7 linked regions of the Homo sapiens genome follow. The protein of the gene in region 6 purifies or fractionates together with the protein of the main gene of each other region. This does not show direct contact. Each region holds a gene or a part of one and is shown on either strand. Other genes may lie near its edges. The genes, in order: IPO7, NOP9, SAAL1, TTYH3, NUP98, UXS1 and NUP160.

Region 1 (2,488 bases), on a different chromosome or scaffold from region 6:
GTCCTTAAAGGAAAGGGATATATCTGTCCCCATTGTTTGTTTTATGCAGTCATAATACTACATACAAATCTATTCAGTGGTAATACTACATACAAAGGATGAAGGGCCTAGAACAGTATTGGATCACTTCAGTTAGCTGAGTTACAGCCTGGGTCTAGAAGACCTTTGGAGAAGCATACTGCTTCTGCTAATGCTAGTTTTTGGATTGCCAGGTCAACTTAAAATGTTAACTGTTTATGTTAAAGAATCTATTATCCTAGCCTTCTCTAATTTGCAGGTCTGATTTAGGTAACTCCCCCAATTGAGAGATGCCAGTACTATCTCCAAGAGCACTTTCCAGGTAACCTTTGTTTACCATGAGCCAAAGTGTGAAGTGGCTATTGCAAGAATGGCCAACTCACCAAGGATAAAAGCTAGAATTCAGTAGGCACTGATAAATGGTCACAGAAAATCTTTACCAAAATTTAAATTACAAAGAACAGAACTGACAGTTTTATAACTGATGTTTTAAATTTAAGTCATTTATTTTACAAACAGAGACTACCTATTATACTTAAGACATTGTGTTAGATCTTTGCCAAAGACATGGTTTAGTCATACTAATGTAATCCATTTTTTAACTTTCCATATTAATTTAATTTTTAATTCATTTTTCTTTATGCTTGCTTCAGGGGCTACATCTGGGACTGAATAGCAGCATATGGCCCAAGGGCTGTGGTTTTGCCACTCATGCTCTATACTCTAGTCTCTTCCAGAGTTGAGTATAGCAGTCACTATCTTAATACAGTGTGTCACTATTTTATTACCTGCAGAGAAACAGATTAACTTCCTTTATTTAATACTGATAAATAGAAAGGCTTTTTCAAGAAAAAAAAAGAAAGCTTACATTTACAAAAGTGATTTATGCTAATATGTGCCATTAACAAAGACAAATACTGAAATCCACACAAAATCAGAATTAACTTCTACAACTAAAAAAAAATTACAGGGTAATAAAACTGTAGGAAAAGCTGTATGTAAAAAGAAAAAAAGACAAGTCCCTATGTAGCTAATTACAAGAGAATATTGTAAATACATTCAAAAAGTTTTCCAAAAATCCTGCAGCCTCATCTAGAAACTGATACATGTTAAGATTCTTGATCTATACCAAATTATAATGTTAAAGGAAATCATGAAAACTGAGGTATATATTTGATGCATTAGAAACTATCATTTGAACACTATTTAAATAGTTTAATTATAAGGTCTAATTTCAAGTTAAAGTCTGTAAACGGAGATTAGTTTGGATTATATGACACAGGAGACAATAAAACATGTTCTCAAAGACATGCCAATACATTTTCTTGAAACAAAACCTCAGCAAATGAGAATTTTCATACTGTGCATGGGAATAACTAAAACCTTTATTAGATATGATTTTCCATTAACAATAATGTGAAAATTAGAATTATGAATTCAAAAAGCAGTGAAGTCTGAAAATTTAAAAAGTAGACTAGGTATTAGGGGATTAAAGGTAAAGGAAGACGAGAATGTTTCTTTAATACTATTCATTATTTCCCCTCTGTACACAATGTTGCATATATACAACTACTTCATTTTTATTGACTTTATATAATAGTGAAATCCCTTTAAGCAACCTAGGGTATACAGTTGGTGTCCAACTTTCAGGGGATTTTCGGGGGGGAGTAGAAACACTTGATTAACAGTTTTCACCCACACACGTTAGACAATTTTTTTCTTTTTTTGCCAAGATTTTAGTAGTAAATTCATAAATATAGGAAATACTTTCACTCCTTCAGTGTTAAAATAGAAAACCAAACAGTGCCAACAGTAGTGGCTTAATTATTGGTATACAAGAAAAACACAACAACAATGGGTTTTCTTAATTACGCATTTTAAATATCAATATGTGCATTTGTTTTTACAGTTATAAATTTTTTTCTCACCTGTTTTAGACAACAGCTTGTAATAGTTTTGAATCCATTAAGATGTTGCTTTCAATTTGAAATATTTTGTGTATACATGTATATAAAAAATAACCCAATGTATGACTCATCTGACCGATGTTTAAGATCAATAACGGCTTATTTTTCAACATGCAGTTAGGAAGAGAGGGAAGCAAGCCAACCTCTCTACAGTATCTTTTTGCTGGCTTGTTTTTGTAGTGGTATCAATAGTGGTTTTTGGAGGGAACCATGTGCCTTCAGCCTATCTAGTCAAGATCAGATACCACGATCAACAAGAGCGGTAGAAGAGATGGGGAAAGGGGAGTGGGTAAGTGTTAAATATCAATTTTGTAAAGTGTGCATTTTGTACTCCTTCTAGGCACAGGATTAAAAACAGGCCAATGAGGAAAAATTTGTTATAATTAGGAAAAAACTGCAATCAAATCAAGACATAATAGCCGAATTAAGTTCTTTTAATAGATTGCATATATAGATGTTTAGCCATACTCTTAGATCAACTCTTTAAGAGCAGAACTTTATAT
Region 2 (3,387 bases), on a different chromosome or scaffold from region 6:
CTTACACATAGGGAAGAGCCACTTAAAGTTCCTTCCTGTGAGGTGGCACCTCTAAGACTGCCCCCTTATCCTGGGCCTTATCTAGCCAAACAAAAGTCCTGATACTGGCAATGCTTTTTATGTTTTATCTAGCATTTTTAGTTGTTTTCGTTGGGAAGATTTCTCTGAATAATGTGGTCCGCCATTACCAGAATGCCAGAGTTACATTCCATGTTTCCCATCAGCTGTCCCCTGTGTTTGAGGAGCTGAGCCCTGTCTTGGAAGCTGTATTGGCCCAGGGCCACCCAGGGGTAGTCATTGCCCTGGTGGGGGCCTGTCGCAGAGTTGGGGCCTACCAAGCCAAGGTCCTACAGCTCTTGTTGGAGGTGAGTGGATATTACCCACAATCTGTTTATGCCCTCAGTTCAACTTCTACCTTTTAGGACTTATCTAATCTTAAGTTTTTGTACCTCTGGACTCAGGAAGTCTAATGCCCAAGGAGTTCACAGGAATGGGGGAAAATGAGGCCTATAGGTGCCCGCCACCATACCCAGCTAATTTTTTTTTTTTTTTTTGAGACGGAGTTTTGCTCTTGTTGCCCAGGCTGGAGTGCAGTGGCGCAATCTCAGCTCACCGTGCCCGGCTGAGGCCAAATGTTATTTCACAGTCCTGGAACAAAAATTGTCTCCCAGAACTAAGAGAGAAGTTTATTTAAGGGATAAACATTTATTAACCCCTGTATGTGATAGAGGCTGGGGATACAGCAAGGCATGACATCTGCTTTCATGGAGCTAACATTCTTGTGGAGTTGGGCCTTCTTTCCTTTCCTGAAGGTGTTCCCTTAAAGTTGAGGTAAGGGACGGAGAAGTTCTCAGGTTCATCATATTCTGTCTTCTCCTTTAGGCATTCCACTGTGCAGAGCCCTCATCCCGGCAAGTGGCCTGTGTGCCTCTCTTTGCCACTTTGATGGCTTATGAGGTGTACTATGGACTGACGGAGGAGGAGGGGGCAGTGCCTGCAGAGCACCAGGTGAGGTAGGGGAGAGGCCAAGCCAGTGACTAATTGGGAGTCAGGCCTCCCAGGGTTTAGCAAGCGTCTGACTTCTGAGGTGAGAGTGGTGACTTCATCCAGGTGGAGGTGGCAGTGTTCTGGGGATGGGCTCATCCACCTGGCTTGTTGGTGCCTCCTAATTTCTTATCTCTGCGCTGCCAGGTGGCAATGGCCGCAGCCAGAGCCTTGGGGGATGTGACAGTCCTTGGGTCTCTACTGCTCCAGCATCTGCTGCACTTCTCCACTCCTGGTCTTGTACTTCGAAGTCTGGGTGCCTTGACGGGACCACAGCTTCTGTCCCTTGCCCAAAGTCCCGCTGGCTCTCATGTGCTCGATGCCATCCTGACCAGCCCCTCTGTGACGCGCAAGCTGCGCCGCCGTGTGCTGCAGAACCTAAAGGTTAGATTTCTGGCTTTTGCCTTGATTCCCCACCATCATCCATTTAGAGAATATGAGCTTTCCCTGGACTGTACCTTCAGACTCAAAAAGGCTATGTAATTCCTAGACTATTTTAATTCAGCCCTTAAACTCTTCAGAAAATTCACTCTCCACAAGCCTCCAAAATACTTTTGTGGATTTTGCTAGGGAGACCTACTTTGCTTGTCTCCATACAGGGACAATATGTGGCTCTGGCCTGTAGTCGCCATGGCAGCCGTGTGCTAGATGCCATCTGGAGTGGAGCAGCCTTGAGGGCCCGGAAGGAAATTGCTGCTGAGCTTGGTGAGTACCAGCCCCTCTCTTTGATGTTTCCAGACTCTCCCCTCTCTTACTCCAGATCACTGGGTAGCTGGGAAGTCTACTGAAATTCAACAGTCTTTAGTTCCAAAGGGTGGTCTTGCTCATGGGTTCTTAGCAGTCTGCTTTCCCCTTCCCTCCCGCTGACTGATTGTGTAGTCCTCTGCCCTCACCCTGCCCTCTGACTTCTGTTCTTTGGAAAGTGAAGTGTTCACTTTATCCCAGTGGCAGTCCCAGGGTCTGGGGGAAATGGAGGGATCTTTACGTCAAGTAGAGTCTGTCTTTGAGCATGGTAGTACTAAACATGAGTGGTTCCCTTTGCAGGGGAGCAGAACCAGGAGCTGATAAGAGACCCTTTCGGCCACCATGTGGCTCGAAATGTGGCCTTGACTACCTTCCTAAAGCGGCGAGAGGCTTGGGAACAGCAGCAGGGTGCGGTGGCCAAGCGGAGGCGGGCATTGAACTCCATACTTGAAGACTGAGGCTTTGGATCTGGGACTGGGTGTTGATGGGGGAGGGCAAAATGGGGTATCCACCCCATCCCTTTCCTGGTTTAAATTGGAGTCAGAAGTCTTAGTGGTAAATATTTGATATTTTTATTGGAAATGTTTTTGTTAGTTTGAGGGGAAGGGTATGAAGACAGATCTCAAGGTAAAGTCAGAGAGGGCTGTCATCAGTATGCTGGGGAGTTTAGGGACAGGAGGCATTGGTAGGGGATTAGATGTAGCAGCAGTCAGGCTGGGATCAAGATGCCTGGGGGACATCTTGATCTTGGCCTTTCAGGGCAAGTGGGAGGCCAGAAAGGTGGCTAGGAAAGAACAGCATTCTTCAGGTAAGGGTATAGACTTGGGATGTGAGGCGTTATGCTGAAAGGTTCTGTCACGAGGGGATCAGAGGACAGTGGGGAAATTGGGTGGGTTATCTAGCCTGTACTGTCTGCAGGTCCTGAAATTTGATGCTGTCATAGTCTTTGCAGTGGGTCGGTTGGAATGATTCTGGGGGCAGAAGCTCAGAGCCCCTTAGTAGGAATGGAGGCGGCCCTTCTGCTGCCACTGCTCAGCCCCCTCCACTGCATGACGAAGGGTGGAGGAAATTCCCAGCAACATATGGCCCAGGCCTTGCAGCAGTGTGGAGGTCCAACGAAGGAGCTCCCTGAATGGCAGAGACAAGAGGAAATCAGATGATTTGGAAAACTTGGGAGGAAGCCATCAAGCTGGGAGATGAGGACTTTCCACAAGCAAGAGCTAACTAGGGGTAGGTGGGTGCAAGAGGACGAATTATGGGGACTATCCAACTGTAGGGGATGGGGCAGTATGACATGTTGATTTCTGACCTGAGTACTTTCTTTGGGCCAAGTCCTTGAAAGTCACAACTCATAGAGTAGAGCCCGTAGAATGTGGCTTTGACATTCAGGCTGCCAAAGAGGTCTCGAGGGTTTTGCTTGTACACGTCAAAGGTGAATCGGGCGATGTCCTTGCTGTGCTTGGGCCTCTCCCGTCCCAGGCCATATGACAGCACTCCACTCTGTAGGACACCCTTGTCAGTGCAGTAGATCCTCATACCAGACACCCACCACTAATCTCCATCAGCACTGGGTCAGACCCTCCCTCGCTTGGACTTTCT
Region 3 (3,500 bases), on a different chromosome or scaffold from region 6:
CCCTTCTGAAATGCCTTCTTTTCAATGTCATGTCTAAAGTAGCCCGCTTTATCTTGGTTTCTAGCACATATCTTATTTTCTTTGTAGCATTTAGAAATTGTGTAGTTTAGTTGTTTTATATTTATTGTTTGTTCATTTCTTTAGAATGAAAATTCCATGGGACTGAGCCCTTATTTAGCTTGTTCACTGATGTATCCCCAGAACCTAAAACAGTGCCTATTAGGTTTTTCAGAAAATATTTGGGGAGTAATGAATGAATAGATGAATACCTGAGAGGTAGCATGTTGTGCTGGTTAAGAACATAGTCTCGCTGGGTACTTGCCTGTATTCCCAGCTATTTGGGAGGCTGAGGCAGGAGGATCACTTGAGCCCAGTAGTTGGAGGCTGCAGTGAGCTATGATAATGCCTGTGAATCTGTGAATAGCCACTGCTCCAGTATGGACAGGATAGCAAGACCCCCATCTCTTTTAAAAAACAAGACCATAGGCTCAAATCAGACTCATGGGTTCAAATCCTAGCTTTGCTCTGCTGAGACTGTATAATCTTGGGCAGGTTGCTACACTTTTTAAACTTCAGTTTGCTTATGAGTGTAATGGGGCTAACAATGATAACTAGTTGATAGAGTTGTTTTGAGAATTAAATGAGATAGCATGCAAGCCACTTCACTGTGCCTGGCATTTAATACTTGTTCAATGAATGTTAATTTTATTACTGTTGGTGTTGATATTGTTAGGCCACCCTTGTGCTACTCCAGGAATTACCATTAAATTTAAAAATTTCTGCATGTGGCAAAGAATTGCCCACAGGACAGCTTGATCACTTACAGTGAAGAGAATCTGCCATTATGACTTTCAGTTTAGAGTGTATCTTTGAAAATACTATTTTCTCTGACCATGGTCCTTTAGTAAGTAGAGTGTGTCTCTCTCAGTCAGTTGTCTGGCAGGTTACTGGTTTCACTTGCTGTGGAGAATAATTGCCTGTCTCTTTGAGATGTTCCAGGGCCCTTAATTTTCACATAAGCCATGCAGCTTATATTTTAAGTTAAGGCTTCTCAAATACACACCTCACATTTAGTGAAAATCTGAAGCAGTGGACAGCCAGAGACTTAATTTTATTTATATATTTTACATTGCAGGTCCCCAAGCAAACTGACTTAGCTTTTGTGTCTTACATTCCTAGGTGAGATTTGGCTCATTTGGGGCCACATGTCCACTCACATGTCACCTGTGTGTTACGCCCCTTTAGGCACTGTGGCAGACTCTGTAGGAAGAAGTTATGAGGCTGCCACAGTTACATTGTGATCAGAATTTTTATTCTATTGATGATTTTGAAAACACAAATTCTGGTTTTGGACAGGACCCAATAGCAGTTCTTGACTTCTTTCCCCTACCGTGTTTTAAGCTCTTGGAGGACAAGAAGGAATTTTGTTTTTGTTTGAGACAAAGTCTCACTCTGTCGCCCAGGCTAGAGTGCAGTGGCGAGATCTCAGCTCACTGCACCCTCTGCCTCACGGGTTCAAGCAATCCTTCCACCTCAGCCTCCTGAGTAGGTGGGACTACAGATGGTACACCACCATGCCCAGCTAATTTTTGTATTGTTTGTAGAGATGGCGTTTCACTATGTTTGCCTAGGCTGGTCTCGAACTCCTGGGCTCAAGTGATCCGCCTGTCCTGGCCTCCCAAAGTGTTAGGATTACAGGCGTGAGCCACCTCGCCCAGCCAAGTTTTACCTTTTTTTTTTTTTTCCTTTTTTTCTCGCTGTGTTGCCCAGGCTGGAGTACAGTGGCAAAGTCATGGCTCACTGCAACCTTGAGCTCCCCAGGCTCAAGTGATCCTCCCACCTCAACCTCCCAAGTAGCTGGGACTGCAGGCATGTGCCACCACACCTGGCTAATTTTCGTATTTTTTGTGGATATGGGTTTTCACTATGTTTGCCCAAGCTGGGCTCAAGTAATCCACCCACCTCGGCCTTCTAACCAGCCTCCCAAAGTGTTAGGATTACAGGTGTGAACCACTGCGCCCAGCGTGTTGCTTTTTTCCCTTGTCCCCCGCTTCTAGTTTAATACCTGATAGGTAATCACCAAATGTGTTTGAATGTGTTTAATGAGAATTCCTAGTGGGCAGAAAAATTATTAAGGTAAATAGATTCGGGCAGAAAAGAGTGGGATAATCCTCTGGAGTATTGTAGGTAGTTTAGATTTGTTTATGAAATTGTTCCATTGTCTGGGACTAGTTACCATAAAGACTCTCTAACATCACTTTTGTCTGTTGACACAGTTCCTAAGCCTGTGTTTTTTTTTTCTTGTGTCTAAAATTCTAATTTTATTTTATTTTTTTATTTTTTTTGGAGACAGAGTCTCGCTCTGTCACCCAGGCTGGAGTGCAGTGGCGTGATCTCAGCTCACTGCAACCTCTGCCTCCCGGGTTCTAGCGATTCGCCTGCCTCAGCCTCCTGAGTAGCTGGGACTACAGGTGCATGCCGCCATGCCCGGCTAATTTTTTTGTATTTTTAGTAGAGACAGGGTTTCACCGTGTTGCCCAGCTGGTCTTGAACTCCTGAGCTCAGGCAATCTGCCAGCCTTGGCCTCCCAATGTGCTAGGATTACAGGTGTCAGCCACTGCGCCTGGCGTAAAATTCTAATTTTAATATAGAATTTTATGGTTGCCTGAGCTTTAGGGTTTAGGGAGGAATATTCAACATCCAAGTTAATAATCATTTTTCTTTTCAGGACGTGGCTTTATTTCTCCAAGAATTTAATGCTCCTGATATATTCATGGGAGTACTGGCCAAGTCCAAGTGTCCTCGATTAAGAGTAAGTATGTACATTTCTAAAGCCTTCTTCTTTGAAGCAATAAGAACAGATAGTGCTGGATAGTCTTTTATTTTTCTCACTTTGATTTTCTTACTGACCATAAATCAACAAATCAGCCTGTAGATGTTAATTGAACATTGCCAGGTCCTAGGTAATTTGCTATTTAAATTTATTTTATTTTATTTTTGAGACAGGGTCTCACTATGTCTCCAGGGCTTGGAGTGCAGTGGCGTGATCACGGCTCACTGCAGTCTTGACCTCCTGGGCTCAAGGGACCCTCCCACCTCAGCCTCCCAAGTAACTGGGAGTATAGGTGTAAGCCACCACACCCAGCTAATTTTTATTTTTATTTTGTGGAGACAAAGGTCTCCTTATGTTGCCCAGGCTGGTCTTGAACTCCTGGCCTCAAGTGATCCTCCCACCTTGGCCTCCCAAAGTGCTGGGATTATAAGCGTGAGCTAAATGCCTGTAATAATTTAAAATATTAAATTATTAATAATTTAATAATTTAAAATTATGAAAATCATAGAATTTTAGATTCAGGCCGGACCAGGGAAATTAGCACTTTCATTTACCAGCTGTGGAGACGAGTTAGGCATAACCACTGTTATGCTGCTAGTATGTATCAGAACAAGGAACAGAGCCTGGGCCTCCCATTTTTCAGTTGATTTCTCTTTTTTACTGACAA
Region 4 (3,500 bases), on a different chromosome or scaffold from region 6:
TGGGGTGTGTTTTGGGGATCTGAACTGGGATATGGGGGACTCGTGGTGGGGGCACCTGCAGTGGGGTATGCACAGGAGGCCTGTGTATCTGGATCAAAGGGAGCCAGATGTGGGTGAGGTGAGGCCTCAGATGAGGGAGAGGCCAGTGCCGTAGCAAGAGCTCTGAGTCCCCAGTTGCTGAGCGAGGGTTCAGCACAGGAGGGCTTGATCTAGCTGACGTTATCAGGCCCCTTGGGCTGCTACGTGGGCGGCGGGATGCGGGGACCCACGTGAAAGTGGACACTGTTGCCTGTTCAGGAGAGGGACCTGGGGGACAGGAGGGGCGGGGCCCCAAGAGCCACGTGGCCCTCCAGTCCTGCTTCCAGCTCAGATCTCTGAGCCCCACCCCACCTAGGAGAGGGATCCATCTGGGCCCTGGGCTGTGGGCAGCTCTGGCTGAGGCCAGGCCACAGGAAGAGCCCCAGCCCATGTGTGGGCTGACCCCTGATGTGCACTGGGACCTGCCTTCTGGCCTGCAGCCCAGCAGGTGGCACGGCCCCCACCCTGGCCTGGGGGCTGCTGACTGGCTGTCTCTGCCCCAGGGTCTGCCTGCTGGGAGTCCTGGCCCTGGTCATCAGCTGGGGCGCGCTGGGCTTGGAGCTGGCTGTGTCCGTGGTGAGTGGCAGAGGGGGTGAGGTCCCCGGCTGCTGGACCTGGGCACTGGGGGAGGGACGAGGGGAAGCCACACTCCTCTCCCCTCCCATCTTCCCGGGCACTGGGTCCCGAGAGCGGTGGGGACCCACCATGGGCACAGTCCACCTGTAACCCCAGATTCACAGTCCACCCTCCTGAGTTGAAAGCAGACTCCAGGGGACGGGTTCTACCCCCGAGAGCTTCCCTTTAGGCCCAGCTTGGTCAACCCCTCTTGCTTGCCCACGCCCACCTCAGGGCTCCAGCGACTTCTGTGTGGACCCTGACGCCTACGTGACCAAAATGGTGGAGGAGTACTCGGTGCTGAGTGGGGGTGAGTCTGTGTCCACGGCCGTGTCCCAGCGGGTTCCCCAGGGTTGGGCTGAGCCAAAAGAGTGGGGTAGCTGAGGCCGAGACACCCCTGCCCTGTGGGTCCATGGTCTCAGGGAGACAGGTCCCAGGCCAAGATGCTAGTGAGCAAACAGGACCACCTTTCCCAAGTGGGAGGCTCTGCAAAGAATGACAGGAACTATGTGGGGTGGCGGGTGCCCGCGTGGCAGGGGGAGCGGCAGGTGACCCAGGGCTGCTTCGAGTAGATGCCCAGGGGAGGCCAAATGGGTGGCATTAAAGTACAGCCAGAGGTCTGGGTGCAGTGGCTCACACCTGTAATCCTAGCACTTTGGGAGGCCGAGGCGGGTGGATCACCTGAGGTCAGGAGTTCAAGAGCAGTCTGGCCAACATAGCAAAACCCTGTCTCTACTAAAAATACACAAATGAGCTGGGTGTGGTCGTGGGTGCCTGTAATCCCAGCTACTCCGGAGACTGAGGCACGAGAATTGCCTGAACCCAGGAGGTGGAGGTTGCAATGAGCCGAGATCGCACCACTGCATTCCAGCCTGGGCAACAAGAGTGAAACTCCATCTCAAAAAAAAAAAGTAGAGCCAGAAGGACGCTGCATCTCTTCTAAGAGCCCCGAGGCAGGAGGCAGACCCGAGGGGAGAATGGAGGGTGGGAGGCCAGTGGGGCTGAGTCTCTGTGGCAAGCTTCGCTTTATTCCAGGGGGAGGCCATTGGAGGGAGGGAGGCAGGGGAGAGATTTGACCCATGATTGAAGGTCCCTTTCAAAGCTTCCTCAGGCCTCAAGGGTTACAAGAGTGGGTGAGGAGGATACCTCAAGCAGGAGACAGCAGGGGCTTGAATAAATGGAGCAAAAGGTGGACAGGGATGGGCTTTGAGGGCGGAGCTGGCAGGACTTCCCGGTCAGTTGGATGTAGGGAGCGAGAGGGACGGAGCAGGAGTTGGCGTCCCTGGTTTCAGCAGCTCTGTGCTGCGGGACCATAAGCTGTACTGTGGGTGGGGGAGCAGGTCTGGAGGTGGGGGGCAGGGAGCTGGGGCATCGGGAGTTTCGGCCCCCTCGGGAGGTTTGCGATGTGTGTCGGACGGCACAGAGGCAGGTGGACGTGGGAATCTGGAGATCGGGGTGCCGTCAGTGTGTTAAGCTTCTCAGGCCCCCCTTGTGGAATTATTGTGTGTTCCCCAATAGGAAATAGAAGGCCTGTCCCTGTGGGGGTGAGGGTTACTGAATGACCTTGAAGGTGACCATCCTGCCACCCTTTGTCCCTGGAGGCCACAGGATTGGCTTGTGGGCTGGTTTTTTACCTGCCTTTGTTGAAGGAACCACTTCCACCAAAGCCTGAAGAGCCTCCTGGAGGAAAAGTCATCTGCCGCCCACTGACCTTGTCCTCGGGGGCGAGGGTGGAGGGGTGGGCCCGCTCTGCTAGGGGCGGGGAGGGCTGGTGACCGCTCAGTGCTACCCACCACTGTCCTTGGCCCCGGTGCTATCATCCTGGTCCCTCCAGGTCCCTACTGTAGCCGGCGGCCTTTGGGGGGATCTCATCAAGTATGAGCAGCGCCCCCTACACGTGTACATGTACACACGTAAGTGTGAGCTCCAGCCTGCGGGCCAGACAGCCCCTCCCAGAAGGCAGCAAGGCCAGCCACGCTGGCTTCACTGCACAGGCGGCCACAGTGATGCCTGGTGCTCTCCTATGTTGTTAAATACTTTCATCATTTTTTGAACTTTTAAAATGTTTTTTTTTAATGTTCTTTTATAATTGGAAGAACTGAACTTGTAAAGAGTTCGGAAGGTGGAACCCAGGCAAGGGGCAGTGTGTGGGGACTCTGGCTTGATGGGAGCCCAGACCCCACTGCCACACACACAGACATAGGCATGTGTGTAAATGCATGCAGACACACATGCGAAGACATGTACACACAGACATGCACACATATAAACACACAGACACATGCACACCGGCACACGTGCACACGAAACGTGCACAGAGACACATGCACGTGTAAGTAAACATGCAGACACATGCACATGTGTAAACAGGTGCACACAGACACACATGCACACATGTAAACATGCACGCAGATGCCCTGAAGATATGCGTGCAGACACAGGCAGACGTGCACGCAGTCTCACAGGGACAGCTGTTGCAGCTCAGCCTTCCCTGATGTCTCTCCGCAGACATCCTGCAGTACTACCTGGCCTGCTCGCCCCGCGCCGCCAACCCCTTCCAGCAGGTGAGAGCCTGGGAGGCCGGGACTGGGCTTCAGGAGAGTCTGAAGCACATTGCTGTGTGTGGAGGGGCCCAGCAGGCCTGGCGCCTGGCTCCTCAGCCTGCAGGACTGGGGAACTGGGGGAGGGAGCTGGACAAAGGCTGTGTGGATGTCACCAACAGCCCCTGGGGTTACCATGCCGGTGACCTGGTGACCTGGCTGAGAGCCTTTCGGGGGGACCTGCTCAATGCACCCGCATCGCTGGGA
Region 5 (3,500 bases), on a different chromosome or scaffold from region 6:
GCCTCCCAGTCTTAAGTGAGTCTCATGCCCCAGCCTCCCAAGTAGCTGGGAGTATAGGGTGTGTGCCACCACACGCAGCTAACTTTTGTATTTTTAGTAGAGATAGTGTTTCACCACATTGGCCAGGCTGGTCTTGAATTCCTGGCCTCAAGTGATCGGCCCACCTTGGCCTCCCAAATTGCTGGGATTACAGGCATGAGCTTACCGCACGCCTGCACGCAGCCTTAAGGTCAGTCTTTGTAGTCGTAAAATGAGTCTCCACTGCTTGCTTATGGTGCAAAAACCAAACTCATTATAATAAATATAGGATTCAAGTCCTTTTAGAGGCTTTTACCTTTCCTGCCTTACTCCTACCACTCTTATTCCACGTTCCAGCCTTGCTAGCCTGCTGTACTCACACTAAATTACTTCTGGTGTTTCTAACAAACCATATTATGTTCCACACTACCTAGCACACTTAAACTCATCCTTTTAAGATCTAGGTTGCTGTTACCCCTACTTCTCTCTGCTTTTCCCCAGAGATAATTAATTGCACTTTCTTACTACCAAGATACTTAGTACATTATTCTACTAGTGCACCTGTCAGACCATATTGTAGTTACTTATTCATATTTTCAGGTTGCTATAAGCCCCTTTTGGGAAGGTCTTTTACGGTTACAGGCAATAGAGTGTAGAGGTTAACAGCTCAAGTTCTGGAAGCAGACTTATAGATTCAATTTGTGGCTTCCAAATTCACTGGCTATGTAATCTTGAGCAAGTTAACTACCTCTCTCGTCTGAAAGAAAAAGGTGGGTGGGGTAGACAGTAGTACAGATTATAGTTCATATTGACAGATTTTCACAAAGATTAAACAAAATCTACATGAAGTGTTTTACATAGTACCTTTCATGTACTAAATGCCTTTTTTTTTTTTTTTTTAGGCAGAGTTTTACTCTGTCACCCAGGCTGGAGGGCAGTGGCACAATCTCAGCTCACTGCATCTCCCAGCTTCAAACAATTCTCCTGCCTCAGCCTCCCCAGTAGCTGGGATTACAGGCGTGTGCCACCACACCCAGCTTTGTGTGTGTGTGTGTGTATTTTAGTAGAGACGGGGTTTCACCATGTTGGCCAGGCTGGTCTCAAACTCCTGACCTCGGCCTCTACTAAATGCTTAATAATTGTTATCTATTATTATCCTCATCAAAGTTCCAACTCCTAGTACAGTGCCTGGCACATAATAGACATAATTCAATGTTTGCTGTACTTTTAGTATGAATCAAGAACATCATTTCTAAATAATCACTTGAAGAAACCACTTTCTCATTGAATATTGAGTAATTCATTCACACAACCTATTATGGAGAACTCACTGTATGCCAAGCACTGTAGTGGGTTTGGGGAATATAAAGGTAAACAGTATGTGTTCTGCCCTTACCAAAATAATGATTTTGTGGGGGAGATACATACAAGTAAAGCAGCAATTACTATAGCTTGATAAGTATAGGGATTAAGCAAAGGGTACTATCAATGTGCCAGCACATAGCTGGATGTGGTGGTGCATGACTGTAATCCTAGTACTTTGGGAGGCTGAGGCAGGAGGATTGCTTGAGACCAGCCTGAGCAACATAACGAGACCCCCCTTCTCCCAAAAAAAAAAAAAAAAAACCTATGTTACATAAAAACTCTCTAGTATTATCTTGTTCTGCTTCTTCTCCTTACCCTACATGTCACCATGTAAATCTCCTTTGAATTCCCACCTTTGGGGGTTTTAGCTGTCTTCTCTTTGCCTGGAAAGCTGAGCTCTCTCCTTGTTATTCAGGTCTCAATTTAAATATGACCTCCTTAAAGAAGCCTCTCTTGGTCCTCCAGTCTCAAGTAGCTATCCAGTTTCTCTCTGCCACATCCACCTGTTTAAATTATCTACATGGCTTGTGATTTTTCAGGATTTATTACTGTTTTGTGTTTTCTTATTTATTTTCTATCAGTTTCATGAGAGCAAATAACCTGTCTTGCTCTTGATCCTCCTGCCCCCTGCACACAGCTTTTTTGGTGTTTTAGAAAAGGCTATAAACTTGGAGTCAGGGGACCTAAATTAAATGTTGGTTCTGGCTGCATTTTTTACTTCCTTGTGTGCTCTTTAGAAGTCATACCATCTCTCTGAACCCAATTTATCTTGATTTTTGGTGCTGTGTTATTAAAGCTTGCTGTATAGTTCGGGATCTCAAGACTTTTCCTAGTCCAAGGCTAGGTAACTGTGTTACCTTCCTCTTGGCTATTACTGCATAATTAGTGCCTTGTCCTCCACTAGATGGTGGTGGCTTGGCCCTGTGTCATCATCTTGGATTTTCCCCTCCCTCACCTCACTGTTGTTTCAAGGTTTTGTGTAGAGTCTATAGGTGGGATTGGAGTGATAGGAACTCCCCTTGGATTAATTGGCTTCTCTGCTTCTTTGTAGGTGGATTGCTCAGGTAATGACCTGGAGCAGTTACACATCAAAGTGACTTCACTGTGCAGTCGGATAGAGCAGATTCAGTGTTACAGTGCTAAAGATCGCCTGGCTCAGTCAGGTAAGCCTCTAACCTCCTCACTCTTTCTGCCTTCTTGCTTCCTGTTTTTATGATTATTACACCCCACCCTCAGTGCCTACCACCCTTCTCCAGACCCCATGCTCAGTGCTTGACTCTAGTTTTTCTCTCTAGACATGGCCAAACGTGTAGCCAACCTGCTGCGCGTGGTGCTGAGTCTGCATCATCCTCCTGATAGAACCTCCGACTCAACACCAGACCCTCAGCGAGTCCCTTTGCGCCTCTTGGCTCCCCACATTGGCCGGCTTCCCATGCCTGAGGACTATGCCATGGACGAACTGCGCAGCCTTACCCAGTCCTATCTGCGAGAACTGGCTGTTGGGAGCCTGTGAGCCCCAGGCACTTTGCATCACAGTCACATGCCCATTCACACCACACAGAGGTTCCCTGCCTTGTTTGGATTGGCACTGTTTGCCATTCTCTGGGTTGGCTGTGGCATCTACCCTCCCTCCCTGCTGCCAGAAGCAGCATCCTCCACTTGTTCAGGGCTTTTCTTAATACTGAACGTAGCATAAGGGCTTCTGGAACCCAGAAGAGGAGACAGTTTACCATCCTCAAGATCATTCAGTGTTTTTCCTTTAAAAAAATGGTCAATAAAGCTCCTTTGGCAGAATCCCCCAAAGAACCAGGGTATTCTTTTTCCATCCCTAGCCATTCTGGATCTTGTGACCCTCCATGCCAACCAGCTTCCCTACTCCTACCCTGGCCCTTTTATACTAGGACTCCTTAGGAGGAGTGAGACAGGTGATAATGGATCCTTAACAGATGAACTATCCACAGAAGGAAGAGGGATCCGTCTCTTAAGTAATTGGTTAGTTAACACTGAATTTTGGAGGCAAAGGAGGGTTGGCCTGAGTTAGGAAACAAAATGGGATCTTTCTGACACACTTAGGGCAGAAGTGAATGCCTGTCACGGAGGGATTGATCTTCAGGGCT
Region 6 (3,500 bases):
CCAAGAAAAAAAAACTTAATATTTAAGTTAGATTCAAAAACTGCAGGAAAAACAAATATCTTTTAAATTGTTTATGAGAACAAATTAATAAGCAATACATGCTGTTTGTAGACTAAAGCCCTAAACGCCTAAGTCCACTGTGTGGTTAATTTCTGAATGGTGATGTGAACCCAGTGTGGTATACACTCCCAGCCACAGAGCACGATGAGGCAGCTGTGAGGGGTCTTGACGGTAACTCAGTAATAACAAAACCTAGACCCCTGCAAAGGTGAAAAGTCAACTGCGCTTGAAAAATACTTTTAAGTTGAACACAGGTATTTTATTCAAATTAAATGGTGTAACTGGAGGAGGATAAAGGGAATTTCATCTGGGGGAAGGTTATAGGCGGTGGGAGTGAAAAGAATAGGCTCAGAAAACAGACGTGCCATGCACAACTCAATTCTCTAGCCTGCTGTATCCTGTTCTCCACTCTGCCTTCTCTTCACCAAAATTCTCATTCATTTCACCCTTCTGTTTCAAACGGAAAGTATTAATAGGAAGACAGCAATCCTTTCTACCTAAAATAAAAGGTATACAAACTCCTAGGTCTATGGTTTTAAAACATGTAATTCTCCATGAAACTCCTGTTTAAAATAAATGAAATCTCACACACGATGAAGTATTCACCACGGTGAGAGAGTAAAGCCACCTGGATTTGAGTGGAGTGGTAGCTCATGCCTGTAATCCCAGCACTTTGGGAGGCCGAGACAGGTGGATCACTTGAGATCAGGAGTTCAAGACCAGTCGGGCCAACATGGTGAAACCCTGTCTCTACTAAAAATACAAAAAATTAGCTGGGCGTGGTGGCACACTCCTGTAATCCCAGCTAGTTGGGAGGCTAAGGCAGAAGACTCACTTGAACCCAGGAGGCGGAAGTTGCAGTGGATCGTACCACTGCACTCCAGCCTGGGTGACAGAGAAGACTCCATCTCAAAAAAAAAAAAAAAAAAAAAAAAGAAGCCATCTGGATGAAAAAGATCAAAAATGGCAGAGGAGAAGTAAGGGGAGGCTATAAACTAAAAATGAAATTTGGGTTGGGTGCAGTGGCTCATGCCTGTACCCAACACTTTGGGAAGCCAAGGTGGCTGGATCATTTGACGCCAGGCGTTCAAGACTAGCCTGCGCAGCATGGTGAAACCCCGTCTCTACTAAAAATACAAAAATTAGCTACACGCCTGTAATCCCAGCTACTATGGTGGCTGAAGCACAAGAATCACTTGAACCTAGGAGGTGGAGGTTACAGTGAGTTGAGATCACACCACTGCACTCCAGCCTGGGTGACAGAGCGAGACTCTGTCTCATAAATAAATAAATATCCTAAGTCCCCCAACTGAGTGGGCCCCCTCTTGGCCAAACGGAACCCCAGAGAAACCTGAAAAGCTGAGTTCCCAGCAGTGATGTGAAAGGAGATTGGACATGCCTCACTATACTTTCTCTTTTGGAATTTAGACACAACTGACCAACGTTAATATTAAAACAGAGATCATAAACAGGACCTAGGGTCGTGCCAGACAGGAGCTAAGTCACATCCCTCCAAGTCATTCTGACCCAGTGTATTGGTGAACAGACTTCCTTGTCATAACTTAGATTCCTTTCTGCTGACTCCAAAGTTTTACACAAAGATTTACTCCTTTAACCAATTACAAAGTAAAAAATCTCTAAAGCCAGGGAGGTCAAGGCTGCAGTGAGTGGCAATTGTGCCACTGCACTCCAGCCTGTGTGACAGAGAGAGACCCTGTCTCAAAATAAATAAAATAAAATACAGAATCTCTTAACCCGCCTATACCTGTGAGCCCCCACTTCAAAATAGCCTGTCTTTTTGGGCCAAACCAATGTAAAAGCCCTATATATTGATTTATACCTCCTTGTAACTTCTGCCTCTCTAAAATGTATAAAACTAAACTAATCCGCCTGCCTCGGGCACACTTACTCAAGGCTTCTTGGTTTTGTGTTTCCTGGGGCTGCAGTTACTCATACTGGATCATAATACACCTCTAAAATATTTTAGAGTTTGGTTTTTCAGTTAACAAGGCCAACCTCAAGAATAACCATCCCTTAACCACCACATAGATATTACATATGCTCTGATGAAATGCAAATCAAATGGTTAAGACAGGATGGGTGAGACCAGGCATCCTCATGCTCGATAGCTTTCATTTGGCTTTACCAACAGCACCATTTTCCAAATCCCCTTTGCCTTCAAGATAAGAAACTGACACCCAGAGAAGTTACGTCTTTGACTAAAATCCTCAGAGATCACTAGCTGGGACACACTAAAGCTACAGTCTTTCTAATTACACGCTCTCTACTGCCTGTCAATTTGTCTGGTTCGTGTTTCATCTTAAGAGCTCCCACATTCTACTGCTATACCTGAACAATGACTATGAAAAACGATTTTCCAGAAAAATAATTGAAATTCAAAGTTGACTCACCACTAGAGCTTAACTCACGGGATGAGATTTCATTTTATCTTCACGTTATTGCATTTTTTCCAAGTTTTCCATGATTTTTACATTTAAAAACTTGCAACTTTTAAAAAGAAATGTAACCCCTTTTAACATAACTGTTTCTCTATATGCAAATATTTCTGAAAACAAAATGTTCAGTGGCACTCTAACATTATCTCTGCACCCAAAATACCTGGCAGACAGTTCTGAGATATCAGAGATGCAGCGTATTAAATTACACATGATCATCTCCAACATCTCACTAGTCTTAGTACTGACGTAAAATTGTTGGAAGCACCTTAGCTTGACTAAAATGCACTGGAATTTTTTTTTCTGAAGTAATTTCCTTCTACCTAAAATACTTAAGATTTATATAATATAGCTGGATGGTTATGCAATTTTTTATCCTAATCAATGTTAGCCCATTAGGCAAGTGTTTCAAATAGAAACAAATTTGGTGAAAGCTTAGCACTTACAAAGCTCTATCAGGAACACTAATCACCAAACCCAAGGATATTCTTTGAATAACAAGGAGCTAATACCCAAAAGAGAACAGGAGAAAAGAAGTAAGACCTCTTACACTGAGATGGATTAGAACTTACACGGCTTTGCATGGCTTTCCAGTATAGGGGTTTGTCTCAGTGTGCTTTCTTGCTCGCTCTTGTGGGTGCCAATAGGCAGCTAAAGTGGTCTAGTTCAAGGTCAGCAGTCAAACTCATGATGCTTAGCAAATTAGCAAAAAATCAAAAAATGTATTTCAAAGCAAGTCTCCTCTTTCTGTTGAAGCTGTCCTAAGGCTTACCAATTTACTGAAAAGGCTTTAAGTTATAGCAACAATATACCAGACTCACATGCCAAATGCCTCAGAAATGTGCTTAACCTATGAGATGGCAGATGAGGGGAAAAAAAAAACTAAGTCTGTTTGCTGTGGTGATGTGTAAAGCAAAATAAATTCTATAATACTCAGCATCGACAGGAAGATCATTCCATGTGCACATAATAAAATTCATGGCA
Region 7 (3,500 bases), on a different chromosome or scaffold from region 6:
AAAAAAAAGTTTTTGGCTTCAAATTCATTGTATAAGAGAAGCCCAGTGCTTTACAAAAGGATTCTTTGGCCAACGGTAGTGACTCACACCTGTAATCCCAAAATTTTGGGAGGCTGAAGAGGGAAGATCACTTGAGCCCAGGAGTTTGAGAGCAGCCTGGGCAACAGAGGGAGACCCCATCTCTAAAAAAAATAATAATAATAGAAAAATAGCCAGGTGTGGTGGCATGCACCTGTGGTCCCAGCTACTCAGGAGCCCTAGGTTGGAGGACTGCTTTAGCCCAGGAGGTAAAGGGTATGGTGAGCCTTGATCATGCCACTGCATTCCAGCCTGGGAAACAGAGTGACACCCTATCTTAAAAAAAAAAAAAAAAACTGAAAGGATTTTTTAAGGTTACAAAGGCTTCTGGCTGGGTGCAGTGGCTCACACCTGTAATCTCAGCACTTTGGGAGGCCAAGGGGGTGGATTGCTTGAGCTCAGGAGTTCAAGACCAGCCTGGGTAACATGGCAAGATTCCCATCTCTATTAAAACAACAACAAAAAGTTACATAGACTTTTTTTTTTTTTTTCCCTTTGAGGCAGGGTCTCGCTCTGTTGCCCAGGCTGGAGTGCGGTGGCACGATCTTGGCTCACTGCAACCTCTGCCTCCTGGGTTCAAGTGATTCTCCTGCCTCAGCCTCCCAAGTAGCTGGGACTACAGACGCATGCCACCACACCCGGCTAATTTTTGTAGTTTTTAGTAGAGACAAGGTTTTGCCATATTGGCCAAGCTTGTCTCGAACTCCTGGCCTCAAATGATCCACCCGCCTCAGCCTCCCAAAGTGCTGGGATTATAGGCATGAGCCACCACACCCAGCTTGCATAGGCTTCTTTAAATTACTACTTAGCTTCATGGATGGATTTAAAATACAATAACTCATATAATTGAAAATTATATTAGAATATTTTAGACTGACCTCCCACATAAAACAGAAATGCCTTCTGAGGCTTTTGTGATAGTTATTCAGCCTTTAATTGTCTCTACCTCCACTGACCACTTTGTCACTACCTCTTGTGGGAGTTATTATTCCCAAACTGTGTCATTGAAAAGGAAGCCTCTCTTCTATAAATCAACCCTTCAAGTATTTTAAGAATCTTTCCAGGTCACCTTTCTCCAGACTAAATACACCCAGTTTCTTAACTTTCTCTTGGGTGATGTGTGTTCCAGGTATGCCAAATCTCTATTATATAGTTTTATATTGCCTCTATGTCTTCTAAACTGAAACGTTTTCCATTCAGTTTTGGCTATTATATAGAAGTCTAAAATGTCTTTTAATGTTAGATTTTCTGCCGAGGAACTGAGAGGAATTTGGATCTTTCCTGGAGTGAACTGAAGAAAGAAGTTACTTTAGCTGTTGAAAATGAGGTGAGGCTTGGGTAGAGAAAGAATAAGAATTCCTTCCATCTTGATATAGGGCAGATTGGTACTGACCGAGGAATTACTGGAATTCTTCACTTGACCTTGTTTGTTGGAACATATAAATGTTTAAACCTTTTAACTAGAGAATCAGATACACATTTGCATAGTCTATGGCCTTTAATACGTAAGGAATATTCATTTGGCTGTAGCTTAGTATAATGATATTGGACAATTATGTTTTTTGTGGACAAAGATCCTGAATGGCATCAAAAGTTTAATTTCTTTCATTTCTTCTTTGCCAGCTTCAAGGAAGTGTAACAGAGTATGAATTCTCCCAGGAGGAGTTTCGAAATTTACAACAAGAATTCTGGTGCAAGTTCTATGCCTGTTGTCTTCAGTATCAAGAAGCCCTCTCTCACCCTCTTGCCCTACATTTGAATCCACACACAAACATGGTGTGCCTGCTGAAAAAAGTAAGTGAGCTAAAGCATAGAGAAGACCTTCTTGAGACAGTTCAGTGGCTGTTATAACAAAATGCCTTCAGAAAACAAAAAGTTCAGTGGCTCTTGCCGAATGTTAGTCTGGTGAATGTTGCGGTTAGCATTTAGGACTTTGCATTTGTATTTTTTCCCCTAAAATTGTGATTCATTCATTTAAATAGTTTTCTGTGTTATTCTCTATACTTTTTTTGTATTTTATTGTATTTATTTCTTTTTCTTTTTTTCTCTTTTTTTGAGTTGGAGTCTTGCTCTGTCACCCAGGCTGGAGTGCAGTGGTGTGATCTCAGCTCACTGCAACCTCCGCCTCTGGGATTCAAGCAATTCTCCTGAGTACCTGGGACTACAGGTGTACACCATCACACCCGGCTAATTTTTGTATTTTTAGTAGAGGTGGGGTTTCATCATATTGGTCAGGTGGGTCTTGAACTCCTGTCCTTAGGTGATTCACCCGCCTCAGCCTCCCAAAGTGTTGGGATTACAGGCGTGGGCCACCACACCCGGCCTATTTACTTTTTATATTGAAGTAATTTCCAACTTAAGGTAAGAGTTACAAGAATAGCACAAAGAATTCCTGTATACCCTTCATCTGGATTCATCATTTGTTAACTTCCATATGCTTTTCTTCTTTCTCTAAACAGTTTTTCCTGAACTACTGAGAAGTTAGTTGTAGATATCATGCTCCTTTATCCTTAAATATCCTTAAATATTTCAGCATGTATCTAAGAACACAGATATTAAATAACCACAGCCCAATTTAAAAATCAGGTTATTTGATATTGACATAATATTATACAGCTTATATTCAAATTTTGCCAAATATAACATATATATATATATAGTTTATATTCAGATTTTGCCAATTGTGCCCATAATTTTTTTTCCTGATCCAGGATCCAATCTTTTTTTTTTTTTTGAGACAGTCTTGCTCTGTCGCCCAGGCTAGAGTCCAGTGGTGCAATCTCGGCTCACTGCAACCTCCGCCTACTGAGTTCAAGCGATTCTCCTGCCTATCCTCCAGAGTAGCTGGGATTATAGGCACGCGCCACCACACCTGGCTAGTTTTGTATTTTTAATAGAGACGGAGTTTCGCCATGTTGTGACCAGGCTGGTCTCAAATTCCTGGGCTCAGGTGATCCGCCCACCTTGGCCTCCCAAAGTCCAGGATCCAATCTAATATATGTATTTAGTTATTGTGTCTCTTTAGCTTAACCTCAAACTGTTATCAGCGTTTCTTTGTCTTTCATGAGAATGATGTTATTTGAAGACTATGCTTGTTTCTTTTTTTTGTTTGTTTGTTTGTTTGTTTGTTTGAGGCAGGGTCTTGCTGTGTCACCCAGGCTGCAGTACAGTGGCACTCTTTTTTTTTTTTTTTTTTTTTTTTGAGACAGAGTCTCGCTCTGTCACCCAGGCTGGAGTGCAGTGGCACGATCTCAACACACTGCAACCTCTGCCTCCTGGGTTTATGCCATTCTCCTGCCTCAGCCTCACCAGTAGCTGGGACTACAGGCGCCCGCCACCACACCTGGCTAATTTTTTGTATTTTTAGTAGAGACGGGGTTTCACCGTGTTAGCCAGGATGGTCTCGATCCCCTGACCTCGTG

What was found.
Region 1: the proteins of UXS1 (region 6) and IPO7 purify together in Homo sapiens (affinity purification with mass spectrometry; 2 studies listed by BioGRID and IntAct, with this or other methods). This does not show direct contact.
Region 2: the proteins of UXS1 (region 6) and NOP9 purify together in Homo sapiens (co-immunoprecipitation; 3 studies listed by BioGRID and IntAct, with this or other methods). This does not show direct contact.
Region 3: the proteins of UXS1 (region 6) and SAAL1 purify together in Homo sapiens (co-immunoprecipitation; 3 studies listed by BioGRID and IntAct, with this or other methods). This does not show direct contact.
Region 4: the proteins of UXS1 (region 6) and TTYH3 purify together in Homo sapiens (affinity purification with mass spectrometry; 2 studies listed by BioGRID and IntAct, with this or other methods). This does not show direct contact.
Region 5: the proteins of UXS1 (region 6) and NUP98 purify together in Homo sapiens (affinity purification with mass spectrometry; 2 studies listed by BioGRID and IntAct, with this or other methods). This does not show direct contact.
Region 7: the proteins of UXS1 (region 6) and NUP160 purify together in Homo sapiens (affinity purification with mass spectrometry; 2 studies listed by BioGRID and IntAct, with this or other methods). This does not show direct contact.

The regions. Positions count from the first base shown.
Region 1 is NC_000011.10:9,446,140-9,448,627, reverse strand, and holds the end of IPO7 (importin-7), read right to left. Parts: 3' UTR 501-2,488; downstream 1-500. UniProt on the Homo sapiens protein: Functions in nuclear protein import, either by acting as autonomous nuclear transport receptor or as an adapter-like protein in association with the importin-beta subunit KPNB1.
Region 2 is NC_000014.9:24,302,850-24,306,236, forward strand, and holds part of NOP9 (nucleolar protein 9), read left to right. Parts: intron 1-132; coding exon of another isoform or gene 133-141; exon of another isoform or gene 142-218; intron 219-224; coding exon 225-365; intron 366-882; coding exon 883-1,008; intron 1,009-1,191; coding exon 1,192-1,428; intron 1,429-1,643; coding exon 1,644-1,749; intron 1,750-2,088; coding exon 2,089-2,246; 3' UTR 2,247-2,783; coding exon of another isoform or gene 2,784-2,916; 3' UTR 2,917-3,097; coding exon of another isoform or gene 3,098-3,288; 3' UTR 3,289-3,387. Other genes in the region: lipid transferase CIDEB, read right to left, coding at 2,784-2,916, 3,098-3,288.
Region 3 is NC_000011.10:18,096,083-18,099,582, reverse strand, and holds part of SAAL1 (protein SAAL1), read left to right. Parts: intron 1-2,728; coding exon 2,729-2,812; intron 2,813-3,500. UniProt on the Homo sapiens protein: Plays a role in promoting the proliferation of synovial fibroblasts in response to pro-inflammatory stimuli.
Region 4 is NC_000007.14:2,648,986-2,652,485, forward strand, and holds part of TTYH3 (protein tweety homolog 3), read left to right. Parts: intron 1-581; coding exon 582-654; intron 655-927; coding exon 928-1,003; intron 1,004-3,201; coding exon 3,202-3,257; intron 3,258-3,500. UniProt on the Homo sapiens protein: Calcium-independent, swelling-dependent volume-regulated anion channel (VRAC-swell) which plays a pivotal role in the process of regulatory volume decrease (RVD) in the brain through the efflux of anions like chloride and organic osmolytes like glutamate.
Region 5 is NC_000011.10:3,675,555-3,679,054, reverse strand, and holds part of NUP98 (nuclear pore complex protein Nup98-Nup96 isoform 1 precursor), read left to right. Parts: intron 1-2,434; coding exon 2,435-2,546; intron 2,547-2,678; coding exon 2,679-2,896; 3' UTR 2,897-3,500. UniProt on the Homo sapiens protein: Plays a role in the nuclear pore complex (NPC) assembly and/or maintenance. NUP98 and NUP96 are involved in the bidirectional transport across the NPC. May anchor NUP153 and TPR to the NPC.
Region 6 is NC_000002.12:106,145,802-106,149,301, forward strand, and holds part of UXS1 (UDP-glucuronic acid decarboxylase 1), read right to left. Parts: intron 1-3,500. UniProt on the Homo sapiens protein: Catalyzes the NAD-dependent decarboxylation of UDP-glucuronic acid to UDP-xylose. Necessary for the biosynthesis of the core tetrasaccharide in glycosaminoglycan biosynthesis.
Region 7 is NC_000011.10:47,813,851-47,817,350, reverse strand, and holds part of NUP160 (nuclear pore complex protein Nup160), read left to right. Parts: intron 1-1,321; coding exon 1,322-1,405; intron 1,406-1,701; coding exon 1,702-1,872; intron 1,873-3,500. UniProt on the Homo sapiens protein: Functions as a component of the nuclear pore complex (NPC). Involved in poly(A)+ RNA transport.